Linked DNA regions of Homo sapiens: regions 1, 2 and 3 are each linked to region 4. Evidence: fine-mapped expression QTL. A gene starts in region 4. Each other region holds a variant in brackets. All regions are shown on one strand. Distances are from middle to middle.

The links.
Region 1: its variant is fine-mapped to the expression of XXYLT1 in whole blood (TOPMed, PIP above 0.99).
Region 2: its variant is fine-mapped to the expression of XXYLT1 in whole blood (TOPMed, PIP above 0.99).
Region 3: its variant is fine-mapped to the expression of XXYLT1 in whole blood (TOPMed, PIP above 0.99).

The regions. Positions count from the first base shown.
Region 1 is chr3:195,083,004-195,090,858 of GRCh38, forward strand. The region is part of intron 3 of XXYLT1 (xyloside xylosyltransferase 1); the gene reads right to left. Among named protein-coding and RNA genes, the nearest start is that of XXYLT1-AS1, 7.7 kb to the right of the region's middle. The variant A/G (reference allele first, on the strand shown) is at 4,003.
Region 2 is chr3:195,068,544-195,076,398 of GRCh38, forward strand. XXYLT1 (xyloside xylosyltransferase 1) reads right to left here. Exons shown (of 4, transcript NM_152531.5): 4 at 1-1,568. The coding sequence ends at 1,172. Among named protein-coding and RNA genes, the nearest start is that of XXYLT1-AS1, 22 kb to the right of the region's middle. RefSeq lists enhancers at 1-988, 4,561-5,061. The variant T/G (reference allele first, on the strand shown) is at 2,859.
Region 3 is chr3:195,347,593-195,355,447 of GRCh38, forward strand. All of the region lies in intron 4 of ACAP2 (ArfGAP with coiled-coil, ankyrin repeat and PH domains 2), which reads right to left. It also overlaps the pseudogene RPL31P22. Among named protein-coding and RNA genes, the nearest start is that of XXYLT1, 80 kb to the left of the region's middle. The variant A/C (reference allele first, on the strand shown) is at 4,062.
Region 4 is chr3:195,266,799-195,274,653 of GRCh38, forward strand. XXYLT1 (xyloside xylosyltransferase 1) reads right to left here and starts at 4,361. Exons shown (of 4, transcript NM_152531.5): 1 at 3,757-4,361. The coding sequence starts at 4,260. RefSeq lists an enhancer at 3,600-4,391 and silencers at 3,642-3,821, 3,982-4,511, 4,762-4,991.

The DNA of each region.
Region 1 (7,855 bases), 180 kb before region 4:
ATTTCTGCTGGCCAGCCGAATTCCACAAAGCCCCTGACTCTGTGACAACGCTCAACCCTCCGGAGGATGAAGTGAAGACAAAACAGGATAGAGCGCCCGGCCCCCAGCGTCTCTTCCTGAGTCACTATATTCCTTAAAAGATCCATGACCCTAGTGCTTGCCTTTTCCTACGCATAAGATCGCATCTGAAGGGGTCAGTGATGTCGCTTCTGGAGTCTCTAACCAGATGCACCCTTGCACGTAAGCCTTGATAACCCCCTGCGTATACCGAGCCTGTCTACCTGTGTGTAAACTGTGAGCTGAAACAGTCTTGGGGCAGCCTGACAGAACCTCTCGAAAGACTCCTCCCAGGCTGGAGTCCTCAGGAAACTTCTGAATAAAACGAACTTAATTCTTTAAAAGCTTGACTTTTTCCTTTGGTCAACACCCTCCCTGCTGAGATGATCCCTGGGGCCTCTCCTCAGGCTTTCCTGACACCAGAGGTCCTTCTCCTCATCTCCTCCTCAGAAGTCAGGGTCATCCCTACATCCAGGCTGGCAATAAATATTTGTTCAAGCCTATTATGGACAAGCACCATGCCCAGAAAAATGACGAGGAGGAGGAGAAGAACACCTCTCCCCATTCACAGGAATCATTACCCAGCTATATGTACATTATCTCAATTCCTCACAACTACCTACGGTCAGTATTATTTCCATTTTACGGACGAGGAAATGGAGGCCCAGAGAGTTACTGCGCCTGGCGGTGCACAGTGGCTCATGCCGCTAATCCCAGCACTTTGGGAGGCCGAGGAAAGCAGATCACTTGCAGTCAGGAGTTTGAGACCAGCCCGGCCAACACAGCAAAACTCCATCTCTACTAAAAATACAAAAATCATCCAGGCGCGGTGGCAGGCACCCGTAGTCCCAGCTCCTCAAGGTGCTGAGGCAGGAGCATGGTTTGAACCCAGGAGGCAGAGGTTGCAGCGAGCCGAGATTGCACCACGGCACTCCAGCCTGGGTGACAGTGAGTGAAAATCGGTCTCAAAAAAAAAAAAGTGATGTGCTGATGGTCACACATTCTGCCTTTTGCTGCATTAACTCAGAAAGAGCTCATCTCCTGTGCTTTCACCAAGTTCAGAGCTGGAGTGAGAAATAACATCACAGAAAGGATTCCTAGCGGGCTTTGGTTCTCTGGGAAGGTCCGGCTGGTAAGGCAGAAAAGCAGAAAAGCAGAAAACAGGCTATGAGGTCTGAATTGCATCAGGCCAGTTCCAACCACAGAGCAGGCTGTGGGTGAGGATGGGAAGATGGCAGGGATCAGCTAGGCTGCTCCCTGCCCCAGGGATACTTAGAGGCAGGAGGCCCGATTCAAGTCAGGGCCCTGGCCCTAGACCCAAAATCTTCTCGCTGAAAAAAACCTATAGAGATCACCCAGGAAAATGGAGCATGGAAGCCACCTGGGCAAGGCTGCCCAGCTAGGACATAAAGTCCACCCTCGCTAGGGCACCACAAGACTGCCTGCAGCCTTTCCCACCAGCGAGATGGCAGCCTCAGTGTAATGTATTTCATGCAACCCAGATTTTGAGCAAAGTAAACCGTACTCTTTTCAGAGGTCCAATTCTTTCCCTAAAATACTTAGGTCAGCCCTTGCAGCCTGCTGTTCTTCACTTGCTGTATTTTAGTGAGTTAAACCACCCAAGGATGTTCTAGGCAAAACTCCCACCACTACACACGATCACAGGACTCCATCGGCCCCAGAAACCCAACCCCAGGGATTCATTCATTCAATTAGGCTTCAGGGTCCAGGATGTGAAGAGCACAGTGAATCACACAGACACCCTCATCCTGGAGAGCCCACTCTGATGGCAGGACCATTCTCCATGCTGGGGACAGTACACCTTGGCTCTTGGCAGGGGAGCTTCTCTAATGGTGCCCAAGACAGCAGCTCCTGCCAGTTGCAGAAGCTGAGGGTAGGAAAGGGAGGCCTAGCAAGGCAGCCACTTCCAGACCCTCGAAATGCCAAAAACCTCCAGAGTGTGTGGTTCATCTGAGCAGCCGCAGAGTCTTCACGTGGACGTAACCTTCTCCCAAGCAAGGATGACCCCCATGGGAGTTACAGTGCTCTAAATCCTCTCCTTGCACGAGGTCAAGTAGGAAAAGAAATGATTGCCATATGAAAGTTCAAGTTGGGGACAAAAGGGGCTGAGTGAGGTCCCTGGAGAACAGTTCAGAGGAGCACGGGCTTTGGAGAGAGAATATCTGGATTTGCCCTTTGGCTCAACACCCCTTCCGACCTCTCCAAACCTCTTGGGAATGGTGACTCAGTACCAGTGTCACAGTCCTGGTCCCCACCCCTGGCCCTGCCGCTCCGGCTCCAAGCTGGTTCAGAAAATACGCAACTCACCCAAGGTGTCCAGGTCTGGCATCTCTGCCACTCTCCCATCCCTGGTTCCCTAGAATGGAGCCTCCATCCCCATGTCTAAGCATGCCAGCGCATTTCACCAGAGACCGCGGTGGGAGGGGGGAGTCCACCCAGTTCTACTCGAGAAGCACAGCAGTGCGGTCAGAGAGAAAGGAGCAGGAGCTTAGCTCCTGTGCTCCCTCACAGCTCCAAGAGCCCAGTCATCCTGCGGGCCGCGGTGGGCAGCCGCGAGCCACAACCGTGTCTGGTGACAATCCTAGTAGAGTTCCAGACTGATGCGGCGAGACCACTCCATTCCACCAGGGGCTGGCCCAGAGTTTGGTTCAAAACCGTCAGGTCGCCACTAGCCTCACTGTCCTTCGACTGTGGTGACAGAGCCACTGCTCTGAGCACTCACCTCATACCCAACACAGGAAAGAGGTGCCTCAAAAGCTTGCTGGGCTAGCCTCCTCCCCCACCCCGAGGCTAGCCCCTGAGGCAGCTGCCCCCACTCACCTCTGTCCTCTGTGCTGTCAGGCCTTGCGGAGGCCAACACTCACTATGACTCGGTGGTGCCCGAGCTGCAGAAGACCCAAACTTGACTTTTCAAGCTTCTCTTTCAAGGACTGCCTGGGGCCTGTGGACAGGGGCAGCTGCATTAAAGGCCATTTGTACACACAGAGCACACCTGGGCAAAACAGACCTGGTTTCCAGCACCCCCAAACACCCAGCTTGCCCCCAGCCTGCCCCACAGCTGGCCGCGCTGTGTGCCTCGAAGCCTTACAGCTCAGCACTCTACAGCACTGTCCTTGCTTTTAAATTTTTCTTTTTTTTTAAGGGAAGAAAATCCACAAAACAATCTGTCCTTCTGACAGGCCAGCTCAGATTCCTATCGTGCTAGGTTGGATCAAGGAGCATCATTACGACGGCTTTATCAGAACTGTCTGCTTCAGAAAATAAACAACTTATCAAAGGTAGCCAGGTCTGGCGTCTCGGCCGCTCCCCTACCCCTGCTTCCCTGGAACAGAGGCTGTTTCCCTGTCTCCATGCATGTGAATGCATTTCAGCAGAGACCACAGACCTGTAGGGGAGAAGTCTATCCAGTTGTATTCAACAAACACAGTGGTTAGGGGCAGGGGCTGTGGGGTCAGAGGCCTGACTATGAGCCAGGGCCAGTTTAGGATGGGCCCTGTGAGGAAGGTCAGGGAAGCTGACCTTGCTGCTAAAGGGAACAAAAGGTTTGAAGCGAGGTATGAGGAAGGTCACTCTGGCTGGGTGGGCACTGGCATGGAGGAGGAAGGGCTGGAAGCAGCAAGACCAGGCAGGAGGATGCTTTGGTGATGGGGGGGAGGGTGGCAGTGCCAAGGATGGAGACAAGCAAAGGGTTTAGGAGATACTTAGCAGGTGTATGACTAGCTCTAAGAACGGATGCATGTAGGTGATGAAGGGGGACAAAGAGCTCCGGGTCCTGGCTTCTGTCTTGAGCATTCTGGCTATGGGGTCAGTGGCAGTGGCTGTTCTAATCATGATCAGTGACTTGCATGATGACACTGGCCAGGCCCCTCCCCGATACCTCCCACCTGTACCACAAGGAGGGAGAGTGGCCTCCTAGGCCTTCCC[A/G]GCTCCAGGTCGCCTTGGTGGCAGCACTGTGGTCACCTCCTCCTGCCTCGGTGCAGCTTCTCTAAACTCAGGGCAGGCTGCGGGGAGCAGTAAGGGGGCTGGGAGGCACTGCCCGTGTGGCCCGTTGACACGCCACCGTCTCTCCAGGTGGCCTGCAGCAAACCCGCCTTTCCTGCTCCTCTGGACACAGCCGGCCTTGCCCTTGCCAGGCTGCGTGTGGCCCTGGAGCTCCTCTTCCGCCCTCTTCCCGTTTGTACCCACTCTCCAGGGAGACATTTTTCCCCTTTAAACTGGAAATGTGCTCCCTGGCTCCTCCTCAGATCCCTTGTGCTTGAGTTGCTTCTCCAGGCCTTCCAGATAAATCTCTTGAAAATCTGCTGTGCTTGGGGTGCTCCCTGTGAAAGCAGAAAAGCATCTGAGCTACCCTCCCTGTCTCTCCCCACTGCGCGCTCTATTCAGGTATCAACACAGGTATGCCTGGAGCTGGTAGAGCACAGAGACAAGGCAGTCAGGCTCCCTGCACGCAGGGCCTGCAACTTCTCAGCTCTCTCCGGATAGGGCACTGGGGCCTGGGCTTACCCAGAACAGCCAACTGGAATTTGAATGAACATAAAGAGTGGAATTTTTAACAGCCAGATCAAAGCGGGCATTAAAATTAGATGCTACTGGAGGAGCCAAGATGGCCGAATAGGAACAGCTCTGGTGTACAGCTCCCAGCGTGAGCGACGCAGAAGACGGTGATTTCTGCATTTCCATCTGAGGTACCGGGTTCATCTCACTAGGGAGTGCCAGACAGTGGGCGCAGGTCAGTGGGTGCGCGCACCGTGCGCGAGCCGAAGCAGGGCGAGGCAAAGCCTCACTTGGGAAGCGCAAGGGGTCAGGGAGTTCCCTTTCAAAGGGAGTCAAAGAAAGGGGTGACAGACGCACCTGGAAAATCGGGTCACTCCCACCTGAATACTGCGCTTTTCCAACGGGCTTAAAAAACGGCGCACCACGAGATTACATCCCGCACCTGGCTCGGAGGGTCCTACCCCACGGAGTCTCGCTGATTGCCAGCACAGCGGTCTGAGATCAAACTGCAAGGTGGCAGCGAGGCTGGGGGAGGGGCGCCCGCCATTGCCCAGGCTTGATTAGGTAAACAAAGCAGCCGGGAAGCTCGAACTGGGTGGAGCCCACCACAGCTCAAGGAGGCCTGCCTGCCTCTGTAGGCTCCACCTCTGGGGGCAGGGCACAGACAAACAAAAAGACAGCAGTAACCTCTGCAGACTTAAAGGTCCCTGTCTGACAGCTTTGAAGAGAGCAGTGGTTCTCCCAGCACGCAGCTGGAGATCTGAGAACGGGCAGACTGCCTCCTCAAGTGGGTCCCTGACCCCTGACCCCCGAGCAGCCTAACTGGGAGGCACCCCCCAGCGGGGCACCTCACAGGGCCGGGTACTCCAACAGACCTGCAGCTGAGGGTCCTGTCTGTTAGAAGGAAAACTAACAAACAGAAAGGACATCCACACCAAAAACCCATCTGTACATCACCATCATCAAAGACCAAAAGTAGATAAAACCACAAAGATGGGGAAAAAACAGAACAGAAAAACTGGAAACTCTAAAAAGCAGAGCACCTCTCCTCCTCCAAAGGAACGCAGTTCCTCACCAGCAACAGAACAAAGCTGGATGGAGAATGACTTTGACGAGCTGAGAGAAGAAGGCTTCAGACGATCAAATTACTCTGAGCTACGGGAGGACATTCAAACCAAAGGCAAAGAAGTTGAAAACTTTGAAAAAAATTTAGAAGAATATATAACTAGAATAACCAATACAGAGAAGTGCTTAAAGGAGCTGATGGAGCTGAAAACCAAGGCTCGAGAACTACGTGAAGAATGCAGAAGCCTCAGGAGCCGATGCAATCAACTGGAAGAAAGGGTATCAGCAATGGAAGATGAAATGAATGAAATGAAGCAAGAAGGGAAGTTTAGAGAAAAAACAATAAAAAGAAATGAGCAAAGCCTCCAGGAAATATGGGACTATGTGAAAAGACCAAATCTACGTCTGATTGGTGTACCTGAAAGTGATGGGGAGAATGGAACCAAGTTGGAAAACACTCTGCAGGATATTATCCAGGAGAACTTCCCCAATCTAGCAAGGCAGGCCAACGTTCAGATTCAGGAAATACAGAGAACGCCACAAAGATACTCCTCGAGAAGAGCAACTCCAAGACACATAATTGTCAGATTTACCAAAGTTGAAATGAAGGAAAAAATGTTAAGGGCAGCCAGAGAGAAAGGTCGGGTTACCCACAAAGGGAAGCCCATCAGACTAACAGTGGATCTCTCGGCAGAAACCCTACAAGCCAGAAGAGAGTGGGGGCCAATATTCAACATTCTTAAAGAAAAGGATTTTCAACGCAGAATTTCATATCCAGCCAAACTAAGCTTCATAAGTGAAGGAGAAATAAAATACTTTACAGACAAACAAATGCTGAGAGATTTTGTCACCACCAGGCCTGCCCTAAAAGAGCTCCTGAAGGAAGCGCTAAACATGGAAGGGAACAACCGGTACCAGCCGCTGCAAAATCATGCCAAAATGTAAAGACCATCGAGACTAGGAAGAAACTGCATCAACTAACGAGCACAATAACCAGCTAGCATCATAATGACAGGATCAAATTCACACATAACAATATTAACTTTAAATGTAAATGGACTAAATGCTCCAATTAAAAGACACAGACTGGCAAATTGGATAAAGAGTCAAGACCCATCAGTGTGCTGTATTCAGGAAACCCATCTCACATGCAGAGACACACATAGGCTCAAAATAAAAGGATGGAGGAAGATCTACCAAGCCAATGGAAAACAAAAAAAGGCAGGGGTTGCAATCCTAGTCTCTGATGAAACAGACTTTAAAGCAACAAAGATAAAAAGAGACAAAGAAGGCCATTACATAATGGTAAAGGGATCAATTCAACAAGAAGAGCTAACTATCCTAAATATATATGCACCCAATACAGGAGCACCAAGATTCATAAAGCAAGTCCTGAGTGACCTACAAAGAGACTTAGACTCCCACACATTAATAATGGGAGACTTTAACACCCCACTGTCAACATTAGACAGATCAAGGAGACAGAAAGTCAACAAGGATACCCAGGAATTGAACTCAGCTCTGCACCAAGCGGACCTAATAGACATCTACAGAACTCTCCACCCCAAATCAACAGAATATACATTTTTTTCAGCACCACACCACACCTACTCCAAAATTGACCACATACTTGGAAGTAAAGCTCTCCTCAGCAAATGTAAAAGAACAGAAATTATAACAAACTATCTCTCAGACCACAGTGCAATCAAACTAGAACTCAGGATTAAGAATCTCACTCAAAACCACTCAACTACACGGAAACTGAACAACCTGCTCCTGAATGACTACTGGGTACATAACGAAATGAAGGCAGAAATAAAGATGTTCTTTGAAACCAACAAGAACAAAGACACAACATACCAGAATCTCTGGGACGCATTCAAAGCAGTGTGTAGAGGGACATTTATAGCACTAAATGCCACAAGAGAAAGCAGGAAAGATCCAAAATTGACACCCTAACATCACAATTAAAAGAACTAGAAAAGCAAGAGCAAACACATTCAAAAGCTAGCAGAAGGCAAGAAATAACTAAAATCAGAGCAGAACTGAAGGAAATAGAGACACAAAAAACCCTTCAAAAAATTAATGAATCCAGGAGCTGGTTTTTTGAAAGGATCAACAAAATTGATAGACCACTAGCAAGACTAATAAAGAAAAAAAGAGAGAAGAATCAAATAGACGCAATAAAAAATGATAAAGGGGATATCACCACCGATCT
Region 2 (7,855 bases), 200 kb before region 4:
CCCACATGGTCACACTTGGGAATTGCTGGGTTCCTTTTTGGTTTTTTTTTTTTTTTTGAGATGGACGTCTCACTCTGTCGTCCAGGCTGGAGTGCAGTGGTGTGATCACAGCTCAGTGCAGTGAACTCCTGGACTCAAGCCACCCTCCCACTTCAGCCTCCCAAGTAGCCGGGACAACAAGCACAAGCCACCACACCTGGCTAATTTTTAAAATATTTTGTAGCGATGGGGGCCTCCCTGTGTTTCCCAGGCTGATCTCGACCTCCGAGGCTCAATCGATACCCCCACCTCGGTCTCCCAAAGTGTTGGGATTACAGGCTTGACGACTGTGCCCGGCCTGGGCTTTTTGGAATGAGTCTTCCTGGTCCCGACAGTTCTCCTGCATGTCCTTGTGGTGGCCAGTCTCTGTTCTTTGATGACGAATTTGCTTTCTGAGTAGAGTCTGGTCACCTGGAGCTGGTTTGGTGGAATAAAGGACAATGGGGTTCTAGGATGTAGCTGGGAGATACAAGCTGTGAGTACTCTAATAATGAGATAAGTTTTCTTATGCAGGCCCCAGTTGGTCCTGAAGTCCTTCCTCAAAGAGGCGATCCTGAAACCTACACCAAGTGACGTGAGCATCAGGAGAATGCGCGTGCAGCAGCCTCCCAGGGTGAGTATGTGATGGGCTGGCATTCGTTTGGAAGCTTAGATACTGGGCTGGTCATTAAAACCTTGGCTTACCTTACCCGTTTGGGGCTCGATGGGTGCTAAAGCAGTTCTGTTTGTACTTTCTCGAAAAATGGAAGGCTGTCAATTTAAATTAAATTTATATTGGTCCAAAAAAGGCCGGGTCTAAAGGATTTCCATTCCTCAGAGGCAGACAGCAAGGGGGACCCTTTCTCCCCTTCCTTCTCTTCAAGTGCTTGCTTCCCAGCCCACTGGACATGCGTGTCCTTTGTGTCGCCTGCTCCCTGGAGGAATAAGGTCCCAAGCACCAGCAGTGCACAGGCCAGTCCTTGGCGGGTGGCCTCAGCACAGTGACCTGCCCGGCAGGAGGTCTCAGCACCTTAATCACAGGACTTCCCTGCGGTGTCTCTCTAGCGGGTCAGACACTGCCCTTGGGTCTGTCCCAAGGAACCCTGTCCTTCCCCCAGATCTGGAGGCCCCGGGGGCAAGGCACGGGGAGCGCCTAGTCCTCCGGGATGGGAGTGTTGCAGTTCCCGTGGTAGATCTTGACGTGGCCCTCACACCTGAAATAGGCCTCGAAGACGTCACTGTAGCCATGGTCCCTCCACCAGGTGCACAGCTGCCGGTTCCAGGTACAGTCCAGCACATGGAAGAGCTTGGGGTGCTCCATGCCGATCATGGTGAAGAAGTCCTGGTCCCCGAGGTGGCCGCGGAAGTGGTACTTGTCGGCCAGCTGCTGCACCTGCGCCGGCTCCAGCAGGCGGCTGTAGAGCGGGGACTGGCGCATGGCCTCCAGGTTCAGCAACATCACCCCGCTGTTGAAGCCCGGCAGCCCCTCGGGGGGCGGGCCCCCAACCCGGGTCTGGGGGTTCTCATGGCGGAACTGCCAGAATGTGTGCCTGTGGAGAGAGAGGACAGAGTTAGTCCGGTGTGCAGGGGAACCAGCCTGCCGGCCTGCTGCCCTGGGTCTTCACAGCCAGCCTGCATGCAAACACTGCCACATTCCGGGGTGCAGAATCCGCATCACTACACCAGCAAGTGGCAGAGCTGGGACCTGAACCCAGGGCTCTGGACCCCAAGCCTCAGATTCTTTCTACCATCCTCTGCTACGTCCTCACCACAGCCAACATTGATATTATTGACTGAGGATGTACCAGGCGCCATACTAGACCGGCTTACTTACTCCCCACACAACCCCAGGGGATGGGTGCTCTGAGATGATACATCATTTCACAGCCAAGAAAACGGACGCACAGAGAGGTCAAGGTATTTGCCCAAAGTCACACACCTAGTAAGCAGCAGACGCAGGGACTAAACCCAGACAATCTGGCTCCAAAGTCCACATTCTTAAGATAGCAGCAATCTAGGTAGAACTTTCCACCCCCTTGTCTTCACCTGTGATCTTGAAAAGGAGAAGGGAGAGAGAAGCAGGGGACACAATCCTGAACAGAGATCTCATCAAGACGCAGGCAGCTGAACCCTGACTGGAACAGAACTGTTTTCTGCTTTAGAACAAGGCTCATTCATTGAGCCCCAAGCCTGGCACTTCAGAAAGGCTGGGCAGGGGCTGGGGGCCTGCGACAGCCCAGGGCACACCATGGGTTAGGGTGAAAGACAGCTGTAGAAGAGCCATGTAGGATGATGTCTACTTTAGAAGGAATGTCACTTCAAGTTCAATTTTTCTCTCAGCAGATTTAGAAACCAATCTAGGTTCATAGTTCAGGGAGTGTTAGCCTCTTCTAGGTCCTCTACCCAAATGCTTCCATCTGGAGGGGAGAAGAAAGACCTAGACACCTCCCTGTGAGGGCCAGGGTTAAAGCGCTGCACTGTCCTCCAGCCTCTTTAATAGCTAAGCCTCATGTGTGCTGCAAGGGGTGTGCAGGTGGAGGGGAGAGGCGTCCAAGCCCACACCCACAGAGGAGGGGCCACAGCAATCGTGCCGGTGACCTGGAGGAAGGAGGACCATCAGGAGGCCCACTGTGGCAGGGACAGGCGTGGGAGTGGGTCCTCACGGGGAGGACACATCGTGGCAGAACCAGCTCTGCCTCCCAGCCTGGAGATGCTGCCCCACCGGCCCCCGCAGAGAGACTTCCCCACCCAAACCCAGGATAGGATCTGCGTGATGAAGCAGAAGGTACGGGGGAATAAAACCGGAGACCCTGCCCAGGGTGGCCCTGAGGGGCCACTTC[T/G]CAGCACCAGCACATTGCTCCGCTTCTGGGAACGGAGGAACCTTCCTCAAGGTCTCACGTATCACAGAGAGTGCCAAGAGTCTGATCCTGGCGAGGGGGAAGCATTCCCTCCGGACATTCTTACAGGGGAATCCACAGGGCCACTGCTTGTGTTCTGCTGTGAGTGGAACCGAGCTCTGGTGCCTGCCTGGTGGTAACAGCCTTGGCAAAAATAAGCTTCTCAAGCAAACTGAGATGCTGTCATCTTGCCACAAAAGTCTGCGGTGATAGGGTCACACAGGGTTGGGATGCAGTGTGGCAGCTGTGTGTTCATTTTACCCTATTTCTTCCCAGTGGTTCATTTCAGGACCAGGTTATAAAGCAGCTAAAATTCTACCAGGCAGACCAGGGCACCATGACATCAGAGAGGAGGGACCCTCTGACTAGGGGCAGTGGGTGCTTTACCACCAAGGAGCTCGATTTACCCTTCGAGGGGTGGGAACGAAGCGTTTACCGAGGTGGAGCAGAGACCCAAAGGGAGGGAGGGCACGAGAAGCAGGGAGGCAGGACCTGTGGCCGCCGAGGTCCTGGACTACCTCATGCTCCACGGAGCCCACGTGTCCATCTTTCTTTACTGTCCAGAGTACCCAGGAGGGAGAGGACTCACCCAGCTGGGGGTGTGGCCCGTGCAGTCTCTTGTGTCCACAGGACCTCACAGGGCACCAGCACAGCAGGGCCACAGGAAAGATCACAGGGCTGATGAGGAACGATGGAAAGGCAGGCGTGGGGTGGACCGTGCAGCTGTCGACACCGGGTGGAAGCAGGGGGCAGGACACTGAGGACACGATGCTGCACCTGCAGATTCACTGAGCCCTCAACCTCCCCACCAGATCTACTGTGGGGTTGAGTGAGGAGCAGGAACCCGGAGAGGCTCAGGTGTCTTTTTAAACGGCTTTACTCCTAGCAAGTGGGGAGCAAAGAGGCCGCCCACTGTTCCAGGTATCCTTACCAACCTCGGCAGGAACGCTCCCAAATCTTCTGTGTCTGCAGCAAGGAGGAGCAAACAGTGAACTAGCACTGAGCTCGCTGGGCTCAGGAGATGGGGGCCGCAGGCAGAGAGAAGAGGACAGAATATGCCTCCAGGAGAAGGCCACAGCACAAGTGGCTCTTTGGGGACAATGCTCAGCACCACCACTCAATCAGGATGAAGAGGTATTTGATGATGGTCAGAAAGGACTGGTCTGGGCATCAGCCTGAGAAGGAAAGGAGGGACAGGAAATTGGGCGTGCAAGCTGCCCCGTGTGTGTGCTGCAGCAGAAACACAGCCTGAAAAGGAACAATGACTGTCCCCACCCAAAGCGATGTTCAGGGGGCCCTTGTTCAAGGCGTCCCTACTATCCCCAAATGAACCCAGAAAGACAGAGCAGTCACCTAAGGGAATGGTGGGTTTCTCTGGCTTCTGTGTCTGCTGGTTCTCGTAGAGGAATCGCATCAGCCTCGGGGTAGAAGGAATGGTACGGGGTGTGGACAGTATTGGAGCTCGTGCGAGGAACTTCTATCCCATGGCAAAATGGCCTAAACAGGCAGTACCGCCAATCCCCCCAACGCAACAGCACAGCGTGGGTCACGAAGCCCTCTCACACTCTCCACCTCGGCTCCCTCTCCCTGGCAGCCCAGGGACATTACTGCCTGCATTTTTGCAGAAAGGGAACAGAGGTCCTCAGTTTGTCGCAGGCAGGGCTTCTGATCTCTGAGGTCCCTTTGATCTGACTGCCTCGGATTCCACGGGCTAGGGTTCCAAGGAGGTGCGCTTGGATTTCAATCTTATTTCTGAATTTGGGTGGCACCGGCCGAGGCCAGGGGACAGGGTGATCGGGTGATGCTGGCACATTAGGAACTTAGGGCTCAGACCTGAGGCCTCTACGAGGCAGGGCAGTGAGTGTCCCAGACCCCTGCCCTTCTTCACAGGAGTCTGGGGCTGACAACGTATATTCAGGGGCACTGTCTGTGGCACGTGCAGAGGCTGCAGGAAACCTTTGTATAAATGCAGGTATTTGGTTCTGAGTCCTGGAGCATCCAGAAGTTTCTCTGACTAACCCCTCCCCCCCTCATGCCCACAACCCAGCCACTTTGCTCTAACTATCTGGATTGTCTAACCGTCCGGCCTGTGGAGAGTCTTGTTCCTGTCTTCCATAGTCACCTGGAGACCCACGGTAGAGGGGATAAGCCTTTTTCACCCCTTTAGAAATAATTTCAACTGGAAAACAAGCCCCCACGCAGACAGTCCCTGGTAAATATTGGGTCTTTTCAGAAGTCAAGGAGGCCCTTTGGGAAAATAAAAATTAAGAAGCTTTAAGAACATTCTTCCAGTCATAAATGCATTTTCTAAATTTTTAACATTGAATATAACTTAATAATCATAAAAAAGACTATTAAAAGCTAGTCAACTAGTTTTCATGAAGAAAACCCATCTTTATGGAAAAGGGCATCTGAAGTCATTTGGAAAAGCACAGTTACTTCCTCGCTTCAAGTCTTTCCCTGATGATCACAACCAAGGCCGCTCTGCTAAGGGCTCTCGAGAGAGCCGGGCTGGAGAATCTAAGGGCTCGTCCTCCCCAGTAAAGGGCACACGTGGCCATCAGCCCTCCCACCTCCTCCTCCCACCACTCCAAACCACAGGCCCTTTTGCCTCCGACTCTTCGTGATTTTTTTTCTCCTGCCCCTTTCTCAGCTCCTCAGGTCGAGTTCACCACCACCACCTCCAAGAGGGAGGAAGCGAGGATGGGAAAATGCTGAGCCTGGGCTGTCTGCACAAGACTCTGCAGGAAGGTTCTAGAAGCCTGTGCTGACTCAGGCTAAGTTCAGGCTGTAGACTGTCAGGCAAAGAAGGCTCCATTTGAGGTCTGAGATTCAGCACACGGCCTCGCAAGGCGTACCTCTGGGGCGTCCTTCAGCCTTGAGAGCAGTCACTGAAGGGCCAGCATCTGGGCCTCCTCCCAGAGGAAGCACCCGGCCCAGAGGCTGTGCAGTCAGTGAGGCCTGGAACCCGGAAACGTGATTTCCCTCATACCCATGCATGTGTGCCTGGCCCAATGAGCTCGTTTGGCGTGGAAGGGACCTTGTTTTCCAGTCATCCAAGATGAGAGTCCAGGAGGGAAAAGCAACACTCAGCAGCTGTCCAGCACTTCATCCACACCAGCCAGGTCCTCTGGGGTGATCCAGGGACATTTCAAGTCCACCCAGGCCCAGAGGCTCTCCGGACACCCTGCGCCCTGGCTGGGTGATGTCGGCTAATTTCAGACCCATGACCCTGCATCTTGGTCCTACCTGGAGCTAAGGCTGAAGTTCTGTGGGGCAGTCTCGAGCTCTTCAGTCCTTTAGGGGAACCACTGCCCTGTGGTATCAAACTGGAGAAGACATGGACATCCTGGAGTTGTAGGACCACCACGGAGCTCTAAGTACCCGTGTCCCTAGAGCAGTCCTTACTGCCAGCTCAGAACTGACCCTTATTAGGATCTCTTGATAACAAGACCTAAAGCAGGCTGAGGTCTCCAGCTCTACTGGACAGAGAAGGTAAGAAGTGTTCCCAGGCCGGGAGCGGTGGCTCGCACCTGTAATCCCAGCACTTTGGGAGGCCGAGGTGGGCGGATCACCTGAGGTCAGGAGTTCGAGACCAGCCTGGCCAACATGACAAAACCCCGTCTCTACTAAAAATACAAAACTTAGCCGGGCATGGTGGCGTGCGCCTGTAATCCCAGCTACTCAGGAGGCTGAGGCAGGAGAATCGTTTGAACCCGGGAGGCAGAGGTTGCAGTGAGTTGAGATTGCACCATTGCACTCCAGCCTGGGCAACAAGAGTGAAACTCCGTCTCAAGAAAAAAGAATAAGTGTTCCTAACGTCACACAGGCCATTTGCAGTAGGACTAAGAGATGCTCCTCATAGAGCCACGGTCTACCAGAGCCTGAAGACTGAGGGACTCCTGGTTCATATACCCATTGTGCAGATGAGGAAGCTGAGGCTCAAAAACTGGCCTGTCCAGGGTCACGCTGCTGAAAGGGCAACTCCACATTTCCAGGCAAATAATTTATGCTTTTCCACAAATGCCTCTGCCCAGAAAAGGGAACTGCTGCCTCCCACCTACCCAAAACAAGCCCTGTGGTGAGGCGAGGCAGCACCGCTCAGACAAAGCCAGCCTGCCAGGAGGCGCAGAGGCTGTGCTTTCCCCTCCAGCAGGGCCCACGTCCTCCAAGCTCACCACACTAGCACTTGGAGGAGAGCTGGGTGCCCGAGTGGCTGGCAGGACTTGCCTGGGGAAATAGGAGGGACACTAAGCAGGTGGCAGGCATGTGCTCACCCTCGTCTGTGGGACCTCCTAAGAAACATGTGCTTGTTTTCAAACCCCAGCCCTCTTTGAAGGCCAGCAACTGAGTTGCCAAACCACAACATCCCCAGAACTTGGAAGGGGCAAGCGAGGTCGAGGCGCGGCTGTTGCTTTGCAGGCTGAGTGGGCACTGGGGTTGGCCCTCAGTGCTGCAACCAGGCTGCCTGGCAGGACAGGAGAGGACTGCTGGGGCACCGGGCCCCACAGAGACCCTGTGGGGAGGCACACCGCAGAGGGCTTCCCCTCCAGGCCCTCCCTCCAACATGAGCCACAGCTCCTCCCCTCCAGAAAGAACCAGCACCACGGCCTCCGCCTCCTGGAGCCTCTCCCCGCACGCTGGAGGCTGCCAGGGCCCTGCTTTGCAACTGCTGGCATCTCTGCACCATCTGCACAGCCTGAGAGAACAGAGGTTCAGGGAAGGAAGAGGGCCTGGAGGAAGGTCTGGGGGCTCGGGGAAGTGAGAAAAGAGGTGACATCTGCTGAGCAGATGTGCACAGCTTTAATCAGGACAGTGTTACCACCCACCCCACACCCACCCGTTCCAGAGAGGAAGAAGCCCGCACGGGGTCACGGGGCCGACTGCGGCACAGACATTGGAACTCGACCGCGCGTGTTCCCGGAGTCTGAGTCGTTTTG
Region 3 (7,855 bases), 81 kb after region 4:
AACGGTAATGATCCATATCTTAAAAAGGATTTGACTTACATAAGTGGATGGGCTTGCCAAAATTAACTTAAACATACAAATAGGGTTTTTGCATTTAACTGTATTTAAACTTGACCTCAAGAAATAAAATCAGGGCCAGGCATGGTGGCTTATCCCTATAATCCCATTACTTTGGGAGCCCAAGGTTGGAGGATCCCATGAGGCCAGGAGTTCAAGATTAGCCTGGGCAACATGGCAAGACCCATCTCTCTATATATATACATTTTCAAATGAGCCAAGCATGGTGGCACACACTTGTAGTCCTAACTATTCAAGAGACTAAGGCAAGAGAATCACTTGAGCCCAGGAGTTCAAGGTTGCAGTGAGCTGTGATCACGCCACTGCACTGCACTCTAGCCCGAGCAACAGAGTAAGATCCTATCTCGAAAGAAAAGAAGAAAAGAAAAGAAAAAAGAAAACTTGTAAAAAAAAAAACCTAAACCTGGGAATGTATTTGAGAAAGAAATGTTCTTTTGTCTATAAATTATTTTTAAATGCATTAATAATATTGAGGCATGGATAGAGGGAAGGATAAATGAATAGATATGTGATAAAGCAAATGCAGCATAATATACCTTTGGGGTGAGTATATGGATGTCAACTGTAAAGCTGTTTCAACTTCTAATTATAAAATATCAGAAAGAAATGGCACACATACCTTAAAAAATAAAAAGGAAAACACATCCTACAAAGAAAATACATTAAAAATTAAAAATAAATAAAAAGAAAAAATGTGAAAAACTCCACAAAGATGTCTTCACATCTTCATTGCTGAATTCTACCAAACATTGAAAGGTAGAAAGAACAGTACTTCTACACAAACTCTTCAAAAAAAAAATCTATCGGAAAATCTATTCTCTGAGAAAACGGAAGAACAAAACCAAAGACACTGTAAGAAAAGAAAGCTACGAAGCAGTATCCCTCATGAATACAGATGCCAAAATTCTTAGCAATATATAGTAATGACATAAGAATACATAGGAAGGAAAATACATCATGACCGACTGGGATATATTCCAGGAATGAAAGATGGATTTAACATTCAAAAAAATCAACATAATTCACCATGTTAACAGACTTAAAAAACAAACTGTATGACAGACACAAAAAAGCACTGCAACAAAAATCTTCCCTTCCTGATTTTTAAAAACTCTCAGGAATATAGACATATAAGGTACCTTCCTTGGCGTAATAAAGGGGACATATGAAAAATCTGTATCTAACATCCTGGCTAGTGGCAAAAGGCTACTTTCACCCTCAGATCAGGACCAAGGCCAGGAATGCCTACTCATCACTTCTATTCAACATTACACTAGAAATTCTAGCAATGCAATCATACAAGAAATAAAAAGCATACAGATTAGAAAGGAAGAATATAAAATTGTCTTTATCCACAGATGATGTGATCAGCTCTATAGATAACACTATGGAACCTGCAAAAAAAAAACTGCTAAAATTAATAAGTGAGTTTAAGAAGGCTGTAGAAACAAAGTCAAAATACAAAAATCAGTTGTATTTCTAAGACCAGCAATGAACAAATAGAAACTGAACATTAAAAAAAAAATACTGGCCAGGCGCTGTGGCTCACGCCTGTAATCCCAGCACTTTGGGAGGCCAAAGCGGGCAGATCACCTGAGGTCGGGAGTTTGAGACCAGCCTGACCAACAGGGAGAAACCCCGTCTCTACTAAAAATACAAAATCAGCCGGGCGTGGTGGCACATCCCTGTAATCCCAGCTACTTGGGAGGCTGAGGCAGGAGAATCGCTTGAACCCGGGAGGCAGAGCTTGCAGTGAACCGAGATCACGCCATTGCCCCTCCAGCCTGAGCAACAGGAGCGAAACTCCATCTGAAAACAAACAAACAAAAAAAGCCATTTATAATAACAAATAGGAAATGCTTAAGGATGAATTTGACAAAAAATATGCAAGACTTGCACAGTGATGACTACAAAACATGCTCAGAGAAATTAAAAAAAAAAACAAATGGAGACAATCTTTCATGCTCTTCTTTTCTAATTTGGGTCCAGCAGAACGGCTCCACAAAGATGGGCGGCAAGAAGAAACATCCTGCCATCGATAAGGTGACCCGAGGGTACACCAGCAACATTCAGAAGCACATCCATGGAGTGGGCTTCAAGAAGCATGGCCCTCAGGCACTCAAAGAGATCCAGAAATTTGCCATGAAGGAGATGGGAATTCTAGATGTGCGCATTGACACCAGGCAAAACAAAGCTGTCTGGAACAAAGGAACAAGCAATATCTCATAGGATCCCATATGTGGTTTTCCAGAAAACATGATGAGGCTGAACATTCACCAAACAAGCTCTATACATTGATTACCTATGTGTCTGTCACCACTTTCAAAAATCTGTCGAAAGTCAGTGTGGACAAGAACTAACCACTGATTGTCAAATAAAGTGAGCAAATCATACACACACAAATAGACAGAATCATGGCCCTCTACTTTGAGTAACACATATACTATTCAGATTAGAAGACTTATTATTAGCAAAATGTTGATTCACCTCAAATTGATCTATACATTCAACGCAATTCCACTCCAAATCTCAGTAGAAACTGAAAAGTTGATTCTAAAAGTTATATGAAAACATAAAGGACCTAGAATAGCCAAAATAACTTTGAAAAAGAGGAAAAGAGTTAGAATACTCATACTACCTGATTTCAAGACTTACTATGAAAGCTACAGTAATCAATGAAGTATGGTACTGTATAAAGACAGGTAAAGTCTGGGTACAGTGGCTCACGTCTGTAATCCCAACAGTTTGAGAGGATCACTTGAGCCCAGGAGTTGGAGACCAGCCTTGGCAACAAAGTGAGACCCCCCAATCTCGACAAAAATTCAAAAAATTAGCCAGGGGTGTAGCATGTGCCTGTGGTCCCAGCTACTCAGGAGGCTAAGGCAGGAGGATTACTTGAGCCCAGGAGGTGGAGGCTGCAGTGAGTCATTTTCATTTCACTGCACTCTAGCCCAGAAAACAAAGCAAGACTGTCTCAGGAAAAAAAAAAAAAGAAAAAAGACAAGCAAAAAGATCAATAAAGCAGAAATTACCCACGCATATGGTCAGCTTTTATTCATTTATTTTTTTTACAAAAGGTGCCAATAAAGATGGGAAAATGTACAGAGCAAGCTGGAGAGCCACATGCAAAGAATTTAATAATAATAGAGAGGAAAAAGAACTTCAACCGTTACCACAGAACATTTATAAAATTTAACTTGAAATAGATCATAGACCTAAACTTCCACAAGAAAACATTGAAAAAAATCTTACTGAATAGGGTTAAGCAAACATTTCCTAACAGAACACAAAAGAAAACTACAAAAGAACAAAATCAATAAACTGACTTCATAAAAAAAAAGTTTGATCTTTAAAAAACACTGCTACAAAAATGAAAAAGGCAAGCCAAAGCATGGAAGAAAATATCTGCAAAACATATAACAACTCAGTAAATATGAAGATAAATCCTTTTTTTTTTTTGGGCGGGGGACAGGGTCTTGCTCTGTCGCCCAGGCTGGAGTGCAGTGGTGTGATCTCGGCTCACTGCAACCTCCGCCTCCCAGGTTCAAGTGATTCTCCTGCCTCAGCCTCCCAAGCAGCTGGGATTACAGGGGCATGCCACCACGCCAGTTAATTTTTGTACTTTTAGTAGAGACAGAGTTTCGCCATGTTGCCCAGGATGGTCATGAACTCCTGACCTCAAGTGATCCGCCCGCCTCAGCCTTCCAAAGGGCTGGGATTACAGGCGTGAGTCACCACGCCAGGCCAATAAATCCATATTTTTTCTTTTTCGTGTGTGTGTGTGTGTGTGTGTGTGTGTGTGTGTGTGTGTGTGTGACGGAGTCTTGCTCTGTCACCCTGGAGTGCAGTGGCGTGATGTCAGCTCACTGCAAGCTCCACCTCCCGGGATCACGCCATTCTCCTGCTTCAGCCTCCCCAGCAGTTGGGACCACAGGCGCCCCCCACCACCACGCCCAGCTAATTTTTTGTATTTTTAGTAGACA[A/C]AGGGTTTCACTGTGTTAGGCAGGATGGTCTGGATCTCCTGATCCGTGATCCGCCCGCATCGGCCTCCCAAAGTGCTGGGATTACAGGCGTGAGCCACCATGCCCGGCCTAAATCCATTTTTTTAATGAACAAAAGATGACACTTCACCAAAGAAGATCCATAGATGGCAAAGAAACAAAATGCTCAACATCATTACTTATTAATAAGGAAATGCAAATTAAAACCATAAACAATTTTAGAAAGTGACTATGCCAAGTGTTGCTGAGCATGTGGAACCCCTGCACTCTTGTACACTGCTGATGTAAAATAGCACAATCCACTTTGCAAAACAACATTTGTGTAGGTTTTAATTTCTTTACAGATATTAACACTTTAAAGAAATGTAAAACAGTCATGTGCCGCATAATGACATTTTGGTCAAAGACAGGCCGCACATATAACGGTGGTCCCATAAAATTATAGTACTGTATCTGTACTGTACTTTTTCTATGTTTAAATACACAAATATCTACCATTATGTTACAAATGCCTAACGTATTCATTACAGAAACATGCTGTATAGGTTTGCAGCGTAAAAGCAATAGACTACACCACGTAGCCTAGGTGTGTAGGAGGCTACACTGCCTAGGTTTGTGATAAGTACATTCTATGATACTCACACAATGAAGAAATCACCTAACAACACATTTCTCAGAATGTTTCACTGTTGTTAAATGATGCGTGACTGTATTAAAAATTAATATAAACAATAAATAAAAGAAATTAAATATTTCCTTATTTTCTCTTAGCAATGGCTTACAGTCTTCACTTTAAAAATAGTAAACATTTAAGCATAACACTATCTTACAAACTAGCCGTTTTACACCTGGCTATTCACATAAAGAAATAAAACTATATGCCTACACAGATTTTTACATGTATTTTAATAAGCATTTTTATTTGTAATAGCCAAAACCTAAAAACAACCCCAAAGTCCATTGCGGTAGCTTTAAAATATGACAACAAATTCTTTAACACTGCTTTCTTCAAAAGCAGCCCCAATTCTTTGCTCTTTGAGTGTGGGCTAGATGGAGTGACTTACTTCTAGCAAACAGTATCATGAAGAAAGTAACAATGTGTGACTGCTGAGACCAGGTTATAAAAGGCATTGAAGCTTCCAGCCAGATGCAGTGTCTCAGCACTTTGGGAGGCTGAGGCGGGCAGATCACTTGAGGTCAGGAGTTCCAGACCAGCCTGGCCAACATGGTGAAACCCCAACTCTACTAAAAATACCAAAATTAGCTGGGTGTGGTGGCGCACATCTGTAATCCTAGCTACTCAGGAGGCTGAGGCACAAGAATCGCTTCAACCTGGGAGGCGGAAGTTGCAATGAGCCAAGGTCATGCCATTCACTCCAGCCTGGATGACAGAGTGAGACTCTGTCTTTAAAAAAAAAAAAAAAAAAGGCATTGGAGCTTCCTGTTTGCCCATGCTGCTCTTGGATCACTTGTTTTAGCAGTAACCAGATTTCATGTCATAAGGACACTCAAGCATCCCTGCAAAGAGGATCCTTGGTCAGAGGACCAGAGACTGAGGCAATCTCATGAAATTCCTGAGTCAGAGTCACCCAACTAAGCCACTCCCAAATTCCTGGCCCAGAAACTGTAAGATAATACATGCATGTTGTTTCATGCCACTAAGTTTTCAAATAATCTGTTATACAGCAGTAGATAGCTAATATAACCATCCACAGGTAGATGGATTTTAAAACTTGTGATAAATCCATACAATGCAATCGTATTGAGCAATAAAAAGGGAATGAAGGACTGAAACATGCAATATAATTGGACCTCAAAATAACACTGAAGAAACTAGACTACAAAAGTCCATTTACATACAATTCTAGAAAATGCAAACAAACCAATAATGATAGCAGATTCACGACAGACTAGGAATGAGGGAAGAAGGGAGAGAAACAGAAATTACAAAGTGGCAAAGAAAAACTTTTAAAGCATGATTGTTATATTCACTAAATTATTTGTAGCGATTTCATGGAGATGTGTGGATCTCAAAAGTTATCAAATTGTATGCTGTAACTATGCAGTTTATGTCAATTATTCCTTAATAAAGTTGTTAAAAAAACATCATTATATTCCAAAGAGAAAAGCAGAACATTTTTCTCTTTTCTGCTTTTCAACTTTTTTTTAACTTTTAGGTTCAGGGGTGCATGTGCAGGATGTGGAGGTTTGTTACATAGGTAAACGGGTGTCACAGGGATTTGTTATACAGATTATTTCATCACCCAGGTATTACACCTACTATCCATTAGTTATTTTTTCTGATCCTCTCCCTCCTCCTACCCTCCCACTCCAATAAGCCACAGTATGTGTGGTTCCCCTGTATGTGTCCATGTGTTCTCATCATTTAGCTCCCCCACTTATAAATGAGAACATGTGGTATTTGGTTTTCTGTTCCTGTGTTAGTCTGCTAAGGATAATGGCCTCCAGCTCCATCCATGTTCCTGCAAAGGACATGATCTCATTCTTTTTTATGGCTGCATAGTATTCCATAGTGTATATGTACGTATGCATTTTCTTTATCCAGTCTACCACTGATGGGCATTTAGGTTGATTCCACGTCTTTGCTGTTGTGAATAGTGCTGCAATGAACATACACATACATATGTCTTTATAATAGAACTATATTCCTATGGTTATATACCCAGCAATGGTATCTCACCCAGCTGATGTGAGATGGTATATCTCATTGTGGTTTTGATTTGCACTTCTCCAATGATCAGTGATGTTGAGCTTTTTTTATATGAGTGTTAGCCACATGTATGTCTTCTTTTGAGAAATGTCTGTTCATGTCCTTTGCCTGCTTTTTAATGGGGTTGTGTTTTTCTTTATAATTTAAGTTCCTTATAAATTCTGGATATAAGAGCATTATCAGATGAATAGTTTGCAAATATTTTCTCCCGTTCTATAGGTTGTCTGTTTACTCTGCTGACAGTTTCTTTGATTGTGCAGAAACTCTTTAATTAGATCCCATTTGTCAATTTTTGCTTTTGTTGCAGTTGCTCTTAGCAACTTCATCGTGAACTCTTGGCCCATACATATATCCTGGATACTACTGCCTTTAAAATGTAACATTACCAAAATTAAATTTTCTATACACTTGAATAGAATGTCAAGTATTTCATGAAATTAGATGTCAGTAATCTAGACTATTTACTGGCTTTGTTTTGGAGACAAGAGTCTCACTCCATCACGCAGGCTGGAGTGCAATGGCATGATCTCAGCTCACTGTTACCTGTACTTCCCAGGTTCGAGCAATTCTTGCGCCTTAGCCCTCTGAGTAGCTGGGACTACAGGCATGTGCCACCATGCTCAGTTGATTTTTGTATTTTTACCAGAGACGGGGTTTCGCCATGTTGGACAGCCTGATCTCGAACTCCTGACCTCAGCCTCCCAAAGTGCTGGGATTACAGGTGTGAGCCACTGTGCCCAGCCACAATAATGTAGGCTATATACTTTTAATACTTCCATTAGTGTGAAAAGTATGTTGTCAATAAAGCAACAGTTCTGTCTCTGACTTGCCAATTCTCAAGCCACAGCTATCTAACAGCTAATTCTTTTCTTTTTCTTCTTTTTTTTTTTTTTTTTGGTAGTTATTGTTGTTCTTAAAGCCCTTCCTCATGGACAGCTAACTCTTTTCTATATTAAACTGCTACACAGAAATTCCTCAATTCATCTACTGGTATCTAAGTCTCCAGTCTATACTTTCCCAGGAGAAAATTCACACATTTTCCCAT
Region 4 (7,855 bases):
TGAGCCCACAGGCTGGGGTGGGGCCCAGGATTCTGTATTTTCAAGTGTCCCCAGGTGATTCTGATGCATTTAGAAAATGGACTTACTGTATAGGCTAGAAGCAGCTCCTCCTATACTGGTACCTGGAACATAGCAAGCTCTGAAGTTTACTGATTAACAAATAATATGCTTCCCTGTTCACAGATAATAAACTAACAGATTAATTAAAACCTTCAAACATATTTAAAACAAGATACATGAATCCTTTTTAGCTAATATCCAATTAGCCAAAATAAAATCTAAGGTCACTAATAATGTTCTGTGATCTATTTCTGCAACCATTTCAGCTACAAGGTGTTTCTATGCCACTTGAAAATGGCCTGAGACCTCGGTGTGTGGGCACCAGCCCCGTGCCAGTTCACTGTGGCCCTGCTCTGCATCTTGCAGCCATGCTGAGGTCCCAGAGCCAACTGAAGGGAAGAGGAGCCCCCAGGCTATCTTCAGACAGTTCTAACACCACTCAAATCAATTCTCCCTGGGAATAAACTGCCCCCTGGACTTTACAAGACAGAAGTGCTCCTTAAAGGGGAAATACAGCACAAAGGGAACAGCACTGACCTAGGATGCAGGTCCAGCCACAACTGAGTAACTTCTCCAGAAAGCCTTGGGCGAGTTTCCTCACCTGTCATGCTATATACTCCAAATCCCTTCCAGCTCTGGCACAGCCAGAGTGAGAAATTCTAGTTTCCTTCTTCCGAGTCAATACTGAAAAAACAATTCCAGTATAAAATTCCCTCATCTGTCAGGTGCTAGGGAGGCAGCATTTAAGACACGTCAATGTCAGTGCCCTTAAGGAGTTTAGAGTCTAGCAAGGAAGACAAATAATTACTCCAACGATTATATAAATACAACTGTGATAAATGTTACTAAGGAACAGTGCTTGGAGTTTGAAAGTGTGTAATGGGGGCTCAGGAAAGGTTTACCAAGGAAAGAACACCAAAGCCGAGACCTGAAAGCTGAGTACCAAGGATGGAGGCAGGGAGAACTCCAGACAGAGGAAAGGCATGTGACATATGTTCTTTTCAGGAATATTCCAAACCTGAGGAAGAATTAAATCACAAGTAAAATGAAGCAAACCTTTTAGAATCGCACATTTAAAGGAAAAAAAGAGCACTTTTCATCACAAACAGAAAAATTTACAAAATATGAACTCAAAAATCATGGGAATGCCAGGTGCAGTGGTGTGTGCCTGTAATCCCAGCTATGCAGGAGGCTAAGGCAAGAGAATTGCTTGAGCTCAGGAGTTCAAGACCAGCCTGGGCAACATAGCAAGAATTCTTATCAAAAACAAAACAAAACAAAGTAACGGAGGCCAGGCGCGGTGGTTCACGCCTGTAATTCCAGCACTTTGAGAGGCCAAGGTGGGTGGATCACCTGAGGTCAGGAATTTGAGACCAGCCTGGCCAACATGATGAAACCCCATCTCTACTAAAAATACAAAAAATTAGCCGGGCGTGGTGGCGGGCGCCTGTAATCCCAGCTACTCAGGAGGCTGGGCCAGGAGAATCACTTGAACCTTGGAGGCAGAGGTTGCAGTGAGCCGAGATCACACTGTTGCACTCCAGCCTGGGCGACAAGAGCAAAACTCTGTCTCAAAAAAAAAAAAACAAAAAATTTAGCCAGCGTGGTGGTGGGCACCTGTAATTCCAGCTACTCGAGAGGCTGAGGCAGAATCGCTCGAACCCAGGAGGCAGAGGTTGCAGTGAGCTGAGATCGTGCCACTGCACTCCAGCCTAGGCAACAAGAGCGAAACTCCATCTCACAAAAAAAAAAAAGAAGTAACGGGAGCAATTTTATGCCAGGACTGATAACCCCTTATCCAATCACTGACATCTGGCTAGAAGTCCCCAGACACTAAACCCTCACCCCTCAACAGAGGAGGTATCAGTTCCCTCTGGTCATTTGCAGCTGCCTCCAGGCCTTGAGTGAGGCTGCCAGAACTGGGCCCAGTAAAGTGGGGTAGTCCGAGCATGAAACACTTACTCCAAGACAGGAGGGGCTCGGCCCTGAGGCTGGATCTACCCCTGGGCCAATATTTCTGGTGCCAACTAAGAGTGCCAGGCATTGTACATAGGGATGGATGATAAGACATGATACAGTCACAGCACCAGGGAAGTAGAAAAGGAAAGAAGGGACGCTTCCTTGGCTCCAAGGAGGGGATGGTATCTGAAGATGGGCAAGACTTGGAGATGGAGAGAAGGAGCACCCCAACAGTGGGAATGACAAAAGCAAAGGCAAGTAGGCTGGAAAGCACTGGCTGTGCAGCTAGCGCTGCAGCGGGAGCTGGGGACAAGGGGACAGAGATCCGGCAACGGTGCAGAGTAGGCCCAGAAGAGATGACAATGCTATCTTCAAGGCGGTGTTTGGAGACCTGGTCAAATCCCAAGATCTGCCCAGACTGACCCTATGGCCAAGGGCCCTCAGTTTTCTACCGTGAACTAGTGCAAAGTTTCTCAAATATTAGGGTCATTAGGATCACCTGGGACAGGTTGCCAGGCTCCTCCTCCAGCGAGGACCTTCAGAGGTCCCAGGGTCTAGGGACTTTCTCAGGAGAGGTGAAAGCTGAGTAAAGAATGGCCAAGGGCCCAAGAGGACACTGTGGGCAGACAGTACAGCATGTATAAGGCCCACTCCCTACATAGCTAAGGTATGAGGTGCATGTAGACAAAGGAGGAGAGGTGAAGCCAGAGAAGTGGACCAGGCTCACAACACAACAGCCCTACCAATAAACTGGGACTTCACCCCGTAGGCAACAAGGAGCTATCAGAGACTCCCGAAGCCTGTAGGATCCTGGCAACAGCTCCCCTAGTCACTCACATAATACAACTCCTGTCTCAGCATGCTTCCCCAACCAACATCAGTCTCCACCCTTTAATATTACCTACTACTCCTTAAAATCTGGCCTCGGATCCCCTCTGTACAACTATTAGGTCAAAATCAAATAAGCAATTTGACCTAGGCAATTCACACTATGTCAGAAACACATCTCAGACAAGGAGAGCCAGGCAGTGAAGACAGATGATAAACAGAGATGGAAGCTGTCATGGAGGCAGACTGGTCCAGCCTGGGACAAGGCGGCCAGCTGTGCTCTCCCCAGATCATATCTGTTCCTCTTGAGCTTTCTCTTCCTCATTCGGAGGAACTCCAGGCTTCTCTAAATGGGTTCATGACCCTTGGAGGAAGGGGAAAAAGGGACACAGAGAGGAGATAAGATGGTTCACAATGAGTTTGACCAGATCCTACTGAAATACCTTAAGAGCAATGAGAAGTGTCACTGCAACTTCAACACTTCCAGAGGCCTCACCAAGGCCCTCTCCAGTTGCTCAGGATGACTACTGGTGACCAGTCCCATCCTCAGAAGTCAAAAACTGAGGAACATAAACAGAGGTGCAGACTCTGAAGGCAGTGCTGAACCCTGCAACGTTAGCAAAATGGGGGCGCGCGGACTCTCCTGGGGGCTGCGCTTAACTGGGGGAGAGGAAAACGAGGCGGTCATTAAAAACGCAGCTCCACTCCTCAGCACCAGCTGAGGGCGTCTGGCTCCCGGACACGCCCCCGAACGAGCCCTCCCGCAGGTTGTGAACACTACATTGCAAGCGGGCAGCTCAGGGAAGATCCTACCCGCTAGTTCCCCGGATCCCCTCCGGGAGCGCAAACTGACCTCGCCTAGGATGGGGTGGGCCACCCACCGGGAGCCCCCAGCCGCGGCCCGCTCACCTTGCACTTGAAGCCAGCGGCGGGCGGCAGGAGCTCCCGCAGCAGGCCCTTGGCCACCTCGCGGCTGGCCTCCTCGCTCACGAAGTGAAGGTTAAGCACCTCGTGCGCCTCGAACTTGGCGAGGCGCAGCAGTGAGCGCAGCGCGACGCGGGCCTTGGCCTGCAGCGCGGCATTGTGCTCCGCCTTGGTGAACATCATCAGCAGGTGGTAGTCCACCGGCCCGGCACCGCCGCCCTCCAAGCTCTTGGCCTTCGCGCCGGGGGCTGGCGCCACGGAGCCCCGCGCTAGCTCCAGCGCGGGCGGCGAGGGCGCGGCGGGAGCCCCGGCGCGGGCCTCCTTCAGCCTCTTGGTGGCGCTGGAGAAGGTCTCCCGGCCTGAGCCGAGGTAGTAGAAGGCGCAGACGGCCAGCGCCGCGGCCAGCAGCAGGGCGCAGTAGTGGGAGCGCACAGCGCCCAGGCGCGCCATGGCCCGAGCGCATGGGAGCCCGCCTCGGAGGAGGCCCATGCGCTACGAGACCGCGGCGCCAGCGGTGCCAGCAACGCGGGAGAGCCCTCGGGTACCCGGACGCCGGCGGCCACTTAGCCCCGGCGCCAGGCGGCGGCCATGAAAGGGGCGGGGCCGCGCCGCCTGGAGCCAATCGCGGGCGCCGGTGCGCGGAGGGGCGGGGCCGGGCGTGCCGAAACCGCTGGGTCCTAGGTTCCAAGGGTATTAGAGGAGGGGTTAGGGTGGGATCCGGCGCCCGGCGTTGGGAGGGGGGGATTCCGGACTCCAGCGTGCTGAGGGCTGGCCCGCTGTCCCGGCTGAGAAATGGCGCCCTACGCGGCGAGCCCCAGAGGATATCCAAGCTGAGTGTTGAAGGGAATGGAGGCGCCCGAACAGAGGAACTTAGGTTAGCCAAAAGCGAAGCTGGAGGCACCAAGAGGTAAAACTTTAATCTCTGCACCTTTTTTCCCTCAATTTCTTGGAGGCTTTAAGCCGTCTCGGCCTCTCCCTGCACACGAGCTGCAGCTAGGCAATTTAAACCGGCAGCTCCTCCCTTTTCCCCCGCCCTGGGAGGAAATGGCCCGGGCCGCACGTCGCGCCGGAGGCCGAGCGGAGGGAGGCTGGAGGATGTGGCCAGCAGGGGGCCCCCGCCGCCCGCACGAACCTGCGAGGCTGCTCCCCGAGCCCCAGCACCGCAAAGCCCTGGAGGGCGACATTCATCCACTTTTGTTTTATAAACAGACTTTTAACACTTTATCAAGAGCCTCCTTGAGGGTACCAGGGAGTTTTGCACGCCGAGGTCACGTGCCCAAAGTCACACAGCTAGCCAGTAGCAATTTTGACCCTAGGCAGTTGCACACTGCTAACTAGATAAAAACGTACTAACTTCAGTCTTCTAAGAATTGAGGCTATACCAGTAGTTTTTAAGTAAACACGTGCAAGTGCTGTGCATGCTGTCTAAATAGACAAAGAACTTGAGTAAGTACAGTAACCCTTCAGTTCTTTGGCCAAGTTCTCTGATTTCTGACCAGAGATTAGGTAAACGGTTTTTCCTGTTATTTCCACATTGTAAGGTTGCATGGATTATCCAACCTCTCTGCTTCAGACCTTGGCTTACATGTCACTACCTACACAAATGATCTCTAAATACCTCCTATCCAGTGTCTGGGCTAAGTGCCATCCTCAATAATTCTGTGAGGGCCACCTAAATATATGTACTACCCTAGTCTCATCTTTCTTCATTGCAAGAACACGTGACTCCAAGAGAACAGAATATACATTTGTTTTTTATTAACCACAATATACCCAGTACCTAACACGGTGCCTACCACATTGGATGAGTCTCAAAAATATACTCAACCATTGAAACAGCATTTTTATTTCTAGAAAATCTTCCTAATAATTTAAGAATGTTCAAAATATTTAACCATAAGAATAAAGCAAGGCCAAGCATGGTGGCTTAGGCCGGGAATGGTGGCTCACGCCTGTAATCCTAGCACTTTGGGAGGCCGAGGAGGGCAGATCACCTTAGGCCAGGAGTTCGAGACCAGCCTGCCCAACATGGCGAAACCCCGTCTCTACTAAAAATACAAAAAATTAGCCAGACATGGTGGCGGGCGCCTGTAATCCCAGCTACTCAGGAGGCTGAGGCAGAAGAATCGCTTGAACCTGGGAGGTGGAGGTTGCAGTGAGCCGAGATCATAACACTGCACTCCAGCCTGGGCGACAAGAGCAAAACTCTGTCTCAAAAAAAAAAAAAAAGTAGGCAGTGTGGTGGCGGACACCTGCAATTCCAGCTACTCGAGAGGCTGAGGCAAGAGAATCGCTTGAACCTAGGAGGCAGAGGATGCAGTGAGCCGAGATCATAACACTGCACTCCAGCCTGGGCGACAAGAGCAAAACCCTGTCTCAAAAAAAAAAAAAAAGTAGGCAGTGTGGTGGCGGACACCTGCAATTCCAGCTACTCGAGAGGCTGAGGCAAGAGAATCGCTTGAACCTAGGAGGCAGAGGATGCAGTGAGCCGAGATTGTGCCTCTGTACTCTAGCCTGGCGAAAGAGAGCGAGACCCTGTCTCAAAAAACAAACATAAAAATAAAGCAAAGCTAGGTTCATGATGGCAAAAAATCAGAATCAAATGGTCATCAATAAAGTGGTTAAAGCTAAAATAATGCAGTCATTAAAAGTGATGTTTTCAACAAACTGCAGGTGGAAATTTAAAAAACTAACAAATGGGTGAGGTGGCTCATACCCGTACTCCAAGCTATGTGGGAGACTGAGGTGGGAGGATCACTTGAGCTCAGGGGTCCAAGGCTGCAGTGAGCTACGATCGCCACAGGACTCCAGCCTGGATGACAGTGCGAGACCCCAATTCCAAAAAAAAAATAGTAATGGTAACAAATGGAAAAAAAAACCTACAGAGACTAAGAAACATATTCACCAACTGCAACGTATGGAACTTATGTGAATTCTGATTTGCACGATCTATTTTAAAAATCGTATTTGAGAAACCAATTTGAATATTGATTATGTAGTTTTACAGTTTAAGAAGTGTTACGATTTTTTAAAGTCCTCAACTTTTAGATGTACATACGGAATGATTTGCTGGTGAAAGGTCTAGGATCTGGTTCCAAAAAGTCCAGGAAAGGGGAAAAATGGGTAGGAGAACAAATATAAGCCATGAGCTTATAGCTATTGATTTTCTCTACCTGTACATGCTTGAAATTTCCCATAAAGTTCTCCCCATCTATTAAGTGAAAGAAGTGGGTAACTGTATGATCCCATTATATAAATGTATGAATACACACACCCAAAGGTCTAGAAGGGTATACACAAAAAAGTAACAGTATCTCCCTCAGTGCTATCCAGTAGAACTTCCTGTGACAATGTATATATTCTACAATCTCCCCTGTTCAAAACAATAGTCACTAGCCACATGGGGCTATAAAGTTCTTAAAATGTAGCAGTACGACTGAGGAAATGAACTCTTTGTCTAATTCCAATTAAGTAGCCACATGTAGCTAGTGAGTTCCATTTTGGACAGCACAAGATAATGGAATTGTGGATGATTCTCTTGCTTCTTCTTAACATTTCTCCACAAGCAAAAAGCTTTGTGTTTGCAATAATTGAAAAATTAAACTGTTTTCACTTAAAATATTTATAGACTATTGATGTGGGTTCTCCACAGAACTATTCTGAAAATGAAATGAAGCTGAATAAAGCAAGTTATATTGAAAAGTTTATGTGTCTGCTTTCAATTAGCTTTTTTTTTTTTAAAGCAAATGCAGGTGATACACTTCCAGTTTGGTTTTTTCAACCTTCCATTCCTTCAGTCCCAATTCACTGACAAACGTGTGTGTGTCTGTTTACTAAAAGGATAAAATGGGAATGTGCTGCATAGATTAGGAACATTAATGTCAATCATAATGGAAAAAACTTAGAGCAAGCCCCTCCCCCCACCCCCCAAAAAAAACCTTTTATCTTTTTGCCAATGAATTAGGGGCTATAACAGCTCTGTGAACAAAGAGAATTATATACTTAAAAGATCCAAATGGATTTCTTGATTGAAGTAATCAGCAAATAGGATGAATGTGGATTTGAAAGGGCTGGGAAGAAATAC